Regions from separate parts of the Homo sapiens genome. Here region 1 is linked to region 2. Evidence: fine-mapped expression QTL. Tissue or cell type: left ventricle. Region 2 holds a variant in brackets; the other region holds the start of a gene. All regions are shown on one strand. Distances are from middle to middle.

What was found. PIP is the estimated chance that this variant, and not a neighbour inherited with it, causes the effect.
Region 1: it holds the start of CASTOR2, and the variant in region 2 is fine-mapped to the expression of CASTOR2 in left ventricle (GTEx, PIP 0.92).

What each region holds. Positions count from the first base shown.
Region 1 is chr7:74,962,523-74,967,667 of GRCh38, reverse strand. It overlaps CASTOR2 (cytosolic arginine sensor for mTORC1 subunit 2), which reads right to left and starts at 2,963. Exons shown (of 9, transcript NM_001145064.3): 1 at 2,570-2,963. The coding sequence starts at 2,682. RefSeq lists a silencer at 3,116-3,225.
Region 2 is chr7:74,988,488-74,993,632 of GRCh38, reverse strand. The region is part of intron 1 of CASTOR2 (cytosolic arginine sensor for mTORC1 subunit 2); the gene reads right to left. Among named protein-coding and RNA genes, the nearest start is that of CASTOR2, 26 kb to the right of the region's middle. The variant G/T (reference allele first, on the strand shown) is at 2,207.

The DNA.
Region 1 (5,145 bases), 26 kb after region 2:
GGGAGGCTGAGGCAGGAGAATCACTTGAACCCAGGAGGTGGAGGCTGCAGTGAGCCGAGATGGCGCCATTGCACTCCAGCCCGGACAAGAGCAAAACTCAGTCTCAAAAAAAAAAAAAAAAAAAAAAAAAAGTAAACAGGTGGCACAGGGACCCTCAGGGCATGCTGTGCTAGTCTGGGCTAAACTTAGGTTTTGGAGAGGGAAGTGACAGAGCTATGGGTCACCACCTGGGGGCAGGGATTGCAGGAACAATCTAAGGGGTTCTACCTGGATGGCTGATTATTGAAAACAGTTTAAATGCTATGTCGGCAGGCTGCGACCCATTAACACTTGCTAAAAAGCCATTTCCCACAATCGTCCCACACCATCCACACAGCAGTTCTGTGTCCATGAGGGGGCCAAATAGTGCTATCTCTATTTTACAGACGGACGAAGTGTGAGCCAGAGGAGACAGACTTCGCCTCAGCCAGGCAGGCAGGGGGCTGTGGTCACACATGACCTGAAGCCATGATCTGGGCTCAGAGTGCATGGGGTGGCAGGTCCTCAGGCATTTGACAAATGTTCCGCACCTTCTGAGGCCGGACCATGGAAACACAGCGATGGCCTTTGGCCTCTGAGTCATCTTGAAACTGGACTAGTCAGCTGGGTCACCTGGGCCTGGGACAGGACAGGCTGCTTTCTGCAGGAGGGAGGAAGGGGGACCCACTGAGGGACAGGTCTTCTTGTGTTCCCAGAGGCCAGCAGGGGGGCTTGACCCCAGAGACACGCCTATCCATGAGTACCCAAAGGGGATCCTGAGTTGGGGGCTGGAAGAAGGCCAGTCTCTCCACCAAGGGAAAGGGGCTGAGGGACCCTGCCCTTTGCTGCCTTTCTAAGAAGCCCCCAAATGCCCCCGCTTCCAGCACCCAGGCCCTGTGCACAGCCGCAGCCTGAGTCATCATTCTCATTTGAATGGTGGCCGAGAAATCAGCCAGGGGGCTGCCCAGGGCTGAGGGCCAAGGCTAGGAAAAACAAGGCTGTTCTGTTACCTCCAAGCTTTGGAACGTCAAGCCCGGCTAGGGAGTGGGGGGCAGAGGGCAGGCAGAAGCAGGATCTGAAGGTGTCAACAGCCAGAGGGGGCTTTGTGTGAGGGGTGGGGGCGCGGTTCAGAATCCGAGCTGTTGGCTTTTGTTTTCAAATGACCTGTTTAATCATTACCCTTTGCAATCAACGGGGAGCACAGGCTCCGTGGCAGAGGCTTGGCGACTATTTCAAATCTCCATCCCCTACTGAGCAGCCGGAGAAGAAAGTAAACAAGATGCCACCGGCAGGTCTGGCTCCATCTCGCAAACAATAGCCGGACTGAGCACCCGGCTCAGACACACACATCAAAGTGAGATTTCCAAGCAAGAACTTTTCACAGGCAGATAACAGGCTGGAATTATTTCCCTGTGTCCCTAGAGCTCAGTGCCAAAGGGGGCAGCCTAAGGGGGCTGTCATTTTCACGCTAACCTTGACCCGAAAAGTATTCATTCATTTTGCAGTGAGGGAGAGCCACCACCGCCCCAAACCGCGAAAAACCAACCAGTAACAACTTTATCATTCCTTTTTAACAGTCACAATGGTGGGCAAATGAGACTTAAGTTACAGCAGCTAGCTGGCACTCACACTCCCCTCGGCTCAGGCTCCTTAAACAACAACAACAAAACCCTAATGCAAGCACCCACCGGGGCTCACAATGTCAAACCCTTACCTGGCATAGGGAAAATCCAAGTGAGAGAGAGAGAGAGAGAGAGAGAGAGAGAGTGTGTGTGTGTGTGTGTGTGTGTGTGTGTGTGATTCCCTCTTTTACCTTCCAAGGCCTTCAACTATTTTTCCCCCTGCAGCATCCAAGCCCAGCCTCAAGGCAGATGCATAAACATGCCTGCTCCTCCCCTTCTACGGTTGGGCAAAACACCCCCCCACCCCCTTTCCAGGACCCCAAGGAGAAAGAATCACGTCCTCTGCAGCCCCTCCCTGGCCCTCGCCCACCCCCCGTTTCCCCCCCGCAATTCCAGGCCGTCCGCAGCAAGCCTCGTAGGCACCTTGAGATAAACACCCACTAATGATTTTATGATTTTCTGCTCTGGGTAACCGCGCTCAGCGGAATCCCTCCCCCCGCCGTGGCGACGGGGCCGGCCCAACCGAGGGATGGGGGGATGGGGGCGTTTGTTTTTTCCACGGCCTCGTCCCCACACCTGTTTTTCATTCATTCATTCGTTCGTTCCTTCATCCATTCACGGATCCGTCACTGCAGCCGCCCCAGCCCCCCGGATTTCGGGGAGGGGGCTGCGATGGGGGAGGGGGTGGGAGATGGGGGGGACGACAGAGGTGGGGGGTGGCGCACCGGGGGGTGGAAGGTTGCGAGGGGTCCGGGAGCCAGGACCCTGCGGCTCCGGCTTTGTCAGACGCGAGCGAAGCGGCGGCGGGGGCGGGGCGGGGGCGCTCCCGGGGCCCGAAGTTGTTTTCCGAGGCGCGGCGGCGAGGACAGCGGCCCGGGGTGCGCCCCCTTTGTCTGTCCCCGGCCGGCGCCGCGTCCCCGCGCGCTTACCTGGTCTTGGAGGACAGGAAGGCAAGTTTGATCAGGCCGTAGGTGAACAGCGGGATACTCTCCTTGGCGACGCTGGCAACTTGCAGCCGGTGCTCCAGGATGTGGAGTTCCATCGTCCGCCCGCGCCCCGTCCGCGGCGGCTCATCCGCGGGGGGACGAGCCGCGGCCCCCGCCCCCTCCGCGCCCTGCCGGCACCGACAGCCGGCCCGGAGACCCGGGAGCTCGGCGCCGGGCGCGGGGGGCGGCGGCGGCCGGGCCGGGCCGGACAAAAGGGAGGAGGCCCGCCAAGTTGCAAGGGGGAGCCGCGGGGCGAGGGAGGCAGCGCCGGCGGAGCAGCAGCCGAGGGGCCGAGCGGCGGAGCAGCGGCGCGCGGCGCCCGGCGCGGGGAGCAGCTGGTGTTCGCTGTAACAAACAACTTGCCACTCAAACGCCGGTCCCCGCTGCGCATGCGCGGCCCGCGCGCGGCCTGCCGGGACTTGTAGTCCGCCTGGGGGGGGGCTCCCCCGGTGCTGTTGCTGCTGTTGCTGCCGCGGGGGCTGGGCGGCCGGAGCTACCGGCAGCCCGGTGCACGGGAAATGCAGGAGCGCGGGCACCCTCAGGACTAAGGGGAAGGCCGAGGGGAGGCACGGGGCGGGTGGAGCCAGCCTGAGCCTAGGCGCGCCCTCTGGCACCCAGTCAGGCTCGGTACTAGGTGCTTGGAGTGTAAAGCGAGCAAACCAGACGACTCCGGTGCTGGAGAAGGCCCGAGTCTGGGAGCGCCAAGATGTAGGGCAATCGGTCATGAGAGTGCAGAGAAGCCAAACCGAAAAGCTTGCTGGGGACCCGGAGGGAGGGGATTGACAGGTCAAAGGGGGTGACCCGGGGGAGGGGACACTCAGGCTGGGTTTTGAAGGATGAATGGGAGTTCGTAGCAAGAGAGTGAGGGCGCGCGGATGGAGGACAGAGGCCTTCCAGGCTGCAGGAACAGCGTGTCCTAGGGCACAGAAGCGTGAAAGCCCCCACGGTGCTGTGTTTGGCTTTGTTGCAGCGGAAAATGTGAGGGAGGAGAGAAAAGAGATAAGGCAGGCATAGTCACCAGGAGTCAGGTCGGGAGGGTCATGTGTGCAGAGCTAATGAGGTGGCCATTTATCCCACTGGAGAGGGGGTGATGGGGACTGCGAAGGGTGAATTCGGGGAAAATGTAAAGTGCGTCTGAGGCACTTCCAACCCCAGGGCCCACGCGCCGGGACCACAGAGGTTCCTCCTTCATGGCTGTCTGGTTTTGAAATGTTCTGGGTTAAAGTGATTGGTGCTTCCACCTTTGGCAGAGTAATCTGGGGACGCGATGGGTGAGATCTATCTGCCAGGGCAGGCTGAGAACTCTCTTTCAGGGGAAAATTGCAGTTGTGCTCCCTCACCTTCCCTCAGCCCTCCTCTGTTAGGTAGGAACATACTAGGTTTTGTCATTTCCACAAAAGGGTGAAAAGCCTGTAATCTGTGGTAGATAGATCTTAGAGCATGCATATCCCCCTCCCACTTTATTTTCTTTTACTCTTTTTCTTTTATTTATTTATTTTTTAGAGACAGGGTCTTGCTCTGTTGGCCAGGATGGAGTGCAGGGGCGCAATCATAGCTCACTACAGCCTCGAACTCCTGGGCTTAAAAGATCCTCCCACCCCAGCTTCCCCAGCAGTTGGGACTACAGTTATGCCTGGCTAATTTTTTTTTTTTTTTAACTTTCTTTTTTCCCCCCCGAGATGGAGTCTTGCTCTGTCGCCCAGGCTAGAGTGCCATGGCGCGATCTTGGCTTACTGCAACCTCCTCCCCCTTGGTTCAGCGATTCTCGTGCCTTGGCCTCCCAGCTAGCTGGGATTACAGGTGCTGGCCACCACGGCTGGCTAATATTTGTATTTTTCGCAATGTTGCCTAGGCTGGTCTTGAACTCCTGACCTCAGGTGATCCACCCACTTCGGCCTCCCAAACTGCTGGGATTACAGGCATAAGCCAATAAGCCACCATGCCTGGCCTTTTTTTTTTTTTTTTTTGAGTCGGAATCTTGCTCCATCACCCAGGCTGAAGTGCAGTGGCACGATCTCGGCTCACTGCAACCTCCCCCTCCGAGGTTCACGCCATTCTCCTGCCTCAGCCTCCCGAGTAGCTGGGACTACAGGTGCCCGCCACCACACCCGGCTAATTTTTTTGTATTTTTAATAGAGACAGGGTTTCACTGTGTTAGCCAGGATGGTCTCGATCTCCTGACCTCATGATCCGCCCGCCTCGGCCTCCCAAATTGCTGGGATTACAGGCGTGAGCCACCACACCCGGCCTTTTTTTTTACTTTTTGTAGAGAGGGGTGTCTCACTATGTTGTTCAGGCTAGTCTCGAACTCCCAGCCTCAAGTGATCCTCCAGCCTCAGCATTTTTTTTTTAAAGCTTATCTGTCTCTCCCCTACACAATCTCAACTCCACAAAGGCAGTGATTTTTGTCTGTTCTCCGCTGTGTTCCCATTGTCAGCAATAGTGACTGGCCTATGAGAGACACTCATTCAATATTTGTGGAATGCATCAATGCACCTATCTATGCCTTTAGAATCTAG
Region 2 (5,145 bases):
CTAAAAATACAAACATTAGCTGGGTGTGGTAGCAGGTGCCTGTAATCTCAGCTACTCCAGAGGCTGAAGCAGGAGAATCACTTGAACCCAGGAGGTGGATGTTGCAGTGAGCAGAGATCACACCACTGCACTCCAGCCTGGGTGACACAGTGAGACTCGCTCTCAAAAAAAAAAAAAAAAAAAAAAAGACAAAGGAGGACCTTCAGGGAACCACCCAGATGTAGAGGTGGGGCACGGAGAAGCCCAGAATCAAGTCTGGAAAGCTATTTTTGTTGCCTCCTCCAGTACTGGAATCCTGAACAGAGACTGGCCCAGCCTGCATTTGCATACACCTAGGGATGGGGAACTCACTTCTTTCTGGAGCAATTAATTCCATCCTGGGGGTAGATGACTTCTAGAAGCTCTATGTGCCTTCCTTTTTCTTTTTCTCTTTTTGAGATGGAGTCTTGCTCTGTTGCCAGGCTGGAGTGCAGTCACGCGATCTCTGCTCATGCAACATCCCCCTCCTGGGTTCACGCCATTCTCCTGCCTCAGCCTCCCGAGTAGCTGGGACTACAGGCGCGTGCCACCACACCCAGCTAATTTTTGTATTTTTTAGAAGAGATGGAGTTTCACCATGTTGGCCAGGATAGTCTTGATCTCTTGACCTCATGATCCACCTGCCTCGGCCTCCCAAAGTGCTGGGATTACAGGCCTGAGTCACCACACCTGGCCCTTTTCTGTTTTTTAAGAAACAGTGTCCCACTCTTTCCCCCAGGCTGGAGTGCAGTGGTGCGATCATAGCTCACTGCAGCCTTGCACTCCTGGGCTCAAGCAATCCTCCTGCCTCAGCCTCCCAAGTAGCTGGGACTACAAGCATGCACCACCATACCAGGCTGATTTAAAAAAATCTTGAGGCCGGGCACAGTGGCTCACGCCTGTAATCCCAGCACTTTGGGAGGCTGAGGTGGGCAGATCACGAGGTCAGGAGTTCGAGACTAGCCTGGCCAATGTGGTGAAACCCCGTCTCTACTAAAAATACAAAAAATAGCTGGGCATGGTGGCCTGCACCTGTAGTCCCAGCTACTCTGGAGGCTGAGGCAGAAGAATCGCTCGAACCCAGGAGGCAGAGGTTGCAGTGAGCCGAGATCATGCCACTGCACTCCAGCCTGGGTGACAGAGCAAGACTCCGTCTTAAAAAAAAAATCTTTTCGTGTAGAGACAGGGTCTCACGATGTTGCTCAGGCTGGTCTTGAATTCCTGGCCTCAAGCCATCCTCCCACCTTTGCCTCCCGAAGAGTTAGGATTACAGGATTGAGCCACCATACAGGGCCCTACAGTTCCTTGATTAGCATCTTAAGGGGAAAGACTTTTAGCATGGAATAGATCATCTTTAGACAAAAACCCAGGATCAGAGAAGGGATGGGATCTGCCAGAGGTCACACTTTGCACGAGACAGGACCAGAACTGGGAAGACCTTTCACCTCCAGCAGTGACCCATCCCCCTGAGCCCCACCCAGACTCTTCCTGGTGTCTACCTGCTGTGTGCCACTCGATTCACCATGCCCCCAGCCTGCCCTTCACCAAGCCCTCTTCGATTGACCCCTTGGGGACCTCAAATCCAGCCTTTTTCATCCCTGCTGTCATCTTCCAAGCCTCTTCCTGGGTCTCCTGAGACCCTGTCCATCCACGCTGCACAGTAGAGGCAAAGGCACTTCTCAAAGCACAAATGTGATGACCTCACTCCTTGGGTCAAGCACCTCCCATGGCTCCCACTGTCTCCACGATAATACCAAGGGCCCCAGGATGGCTTCCAGCTCCATGATTTGGGCTGTTTCTGTCCAGCCCCCATGTGACCACTGCTGGGCCCCTCCTCGTTCCTTAGTGTGCCATATCCTCCCCCGGGACCCTCATTCCACTCCCCAGCCTTCAGGTCTTAGGGTTGACACCTTCACGAACCATGCTCCACTACGTCCCCTCCTCAACACGACCCACACCTCCCCTCCAACCGTCAGTGCCTACTTAGGGAGGTGTCTGGCCATTAGATCACTGCTGAAGTTTACCAACTCCACCCTGGCCTGGGCTGCTGAGTGGGCAGAGACCAAGGAGGCTTTGTCACTGCTACCCCAGCTCCCAGTTCTGGGCGAGCCTTGTAGTATTTGCTGATTGACTCTGCACCTGTCTTGGGTGCCAGGGGCTGCTCCTGGCCTGGGGTGGGGTGGGTAGG[G/T]GCACTGGGGGCTGGACAGGAGGGTGGTGTGCCAGGCAGACAGGGCATCCCCTGCTCACTATGGAACCTTGGCCCACTCCTTGTCCCGGCTTCAGTTTCTCCAGCTGTACAGTGAGATGACTAGCGTGGGCAATCCCTGCAGTCCCTCCAGGGATCACGGTCCCATGCTTCCCTCATATCCAGTTATGGAGAATGTGATAAAGGCCACTGCGTCTCCCACTACCAGGCAGGCAGGGCACCTTCATGGGCTGAGGACCTACAGATGCTCACACCTTCCAGCTCGCCCAACTATAGTGTGGCTCGTGGTTAGGTGCGAGGGCATTTTCTTTTTCTTTTCCTTTTTTTTTTTTTTCCAGACAGGGTCTTGCTCTGTCACCCAGGCTGGAGTGCAATGGCACCAATCACAGTTCACTGCAGCCTCTAACTCCTGGGCTTACGTGATCCTCCTGCCCGAGTAGCTGGGACTACAGGTGCATGCCGCCACACCCAACTAATTTCTTATTTTATTTATGCTGGGACTATAGGCGTGTGCCACCACACCCAACTAATTTCTTATTTTATTATTTATTTCTGAGACTGGGTCTCACTCTGTCACCCAGGCTGGAGTACAGTGGCACGATCTCAGCTCCCTGCAACCTCTGCCTCCCGCATTCAAGTGATTCTCCTGCCTCAGCCTCCCGAGTAGCTGGGATTACAAGCACCCACCACCACACCTGGCTAATTTTTGTACTTTCAGTAGAGATGGGATTTTGCCATGTTGGCCAGGCTGGTCTCAAACTCCTGACCTCAAGCGATCCACCCGCCTTGGCCTCCCAAAGTGCTAGGATTATGGGCGTGAGCCACCGCACCTAGCCTAATTTTTTATTTTTTTGTAGAGACCAGGGTCTCACTATGTTGCACAAGCTGGTCCTGAACTCCTGGCTCAAGAGATCTTCCTGCCTTGGTCTGCCAAATTTGCTGGGATTACAGGTATAAGCCACTGCACCTAGCCAAAACATGTTTTTTTGTTGTTGTTGTTGTTTTTTGTTTTTGTTTTTTTTTTTTGAGATAGAGTCTCGCCATCCAGGCTGGAGTGCAGTGGCGCAATCTCGGCTCACTGCAAGCTCCACCTCCCGGGTTCACTCCATTCTCCTGCCTCAGCCTCCCGAGTAGCTGGGACTACAGGCAACCACTACCATGCCCGGCTAATTTTTTGTATTTTTAGTAGAGACGGGGTTTCACTGTGTTAGCCAGGATGGTCTCCATCTCCTGACCTTGTGATCTGCCCGCCTCGGCCTCCCAAAGTGCTGGGATGACAGGAGTGAGCCACCGCACCCGGCACCAAAACATGTTTTTAATGAGATAAAATCTGAGCTTGGGTCATGGTTTCTTATAGATGTGTATTTTTTTTTAACCCCAAACTCAGCGTTTACAATTGCGGCATAACTTACTATAACAAAATGTACAGATTTTCAGGTGGGCAATTAGATGACTTTTGGCAAGTGTATATCCCCCATTTAACCAGCACCCTGATAAGTATACTGGACATTCCCATCATTGCAGAAAGTGTTCCGTGCTCCTTTCCCAACAACTGGAGGCAGCCACTGCTCTAGTCTCTAGTGCCGTGGATTCACTGTGTCTGTTTTGTGCTTCAAATCCATGGAAACACACACATTATGTCCTATTTTCTGCCTGGTTTATTTTGCTCAATAAATTATTTTTGAGATTAATCCAGGCTGGGTGCAGTGATTCATACCCATACCCAACATTCTGGGAGGCTGGGGTGGGAGGATCGCTTGAAGTCGGGAGTTCAAGACCAGCCTGGGCAACATAGTGAGATCCCATCTCTACAGAAAAAAAAAAAAAAAATAGGCGGACACAGTGGTTAGTCTCAGCTACTCAGGTGGCTGAGTTGGGAGGATTGCTCGAGCCTGGGTGGTAGAGGCTGTGGTGAGCTATGATTGCGCCACTGCACTCCAGCCTGGGTGACAGAGCGAGACTCCATCTCAAAAACAAAACAAAAATTACCCAGGCATGGTGGCATGCTCCTGTAGTCCCAGCTATTTGGGAGGCTGAGGCAGGAGGACTGCTTGAGCCCAGGAGGTCCAGGCTGCAGTGAGCTATAACTGCACTACTGCATTCCAGCCTGGGCAAAGCAAGATCCTGTCTCAAAAAAAAAAAAAAGGCCAGGCGTGGTGGCTCACGCCTGTAATCCCAGCACTTTCGGAGGCCGAGATGGGCGAATCACGAGGTCAGGAGATTGAGACCATCCTGGCTAACACGGTGAAACCCCGTAAAATTTTGTAAAAATACAAAAAAATTAGCCGGGCATGGTGGCGGGCGCCTGTAGTCCCAGCTACTCAGGAGGCTGAGGCAGGAGAATGGCATGAACCTGGGAGGCGGAGCTTGCAGTGAGCCGAGATGGCGCCACTGCACTCCAGCCTGGGTGACAGAGCAAGACTCCGTCTCAAAAAAAAAAAAAAGAAAAATTCCCTCCAGTGTTATGGCTGAATGCCCTAATATTCTACAGTAATAGAAACACAGAATATCTTCTGCATTTTGAAATGCAATGTGGAATGAAAAAAAAAAAAAGCATGCCTCAGAAGATCGCAGGCTGCCAGGTATCTTTTCCATACATATAAATGGGATGAAAGCCTTTGCAAAAATCAAGGGAAAGATAAATGTAGGCAGACAGCAGTTACCATCACTGTCATGGTCGCTGTGGGGGGCAGTGTTATTCAAATGATAAACAAACATAAAGTAAAAGCAGGATCAATAAGTACGTCACGAACCAAAAATTCTGAGTCATCAAATTCTGCATGCCTGAGGTCCACCAAAAAAAAGGAGCGTGGGCCGGGTGCGGTGGCTCACGCCTGTAATCCCAGTAGTCTGGGAGGCCGAAGTGGGCAGAACAAGAGGTCAGGAAATCAAGACCATCCTGGCTAACATGGTGAAACCCT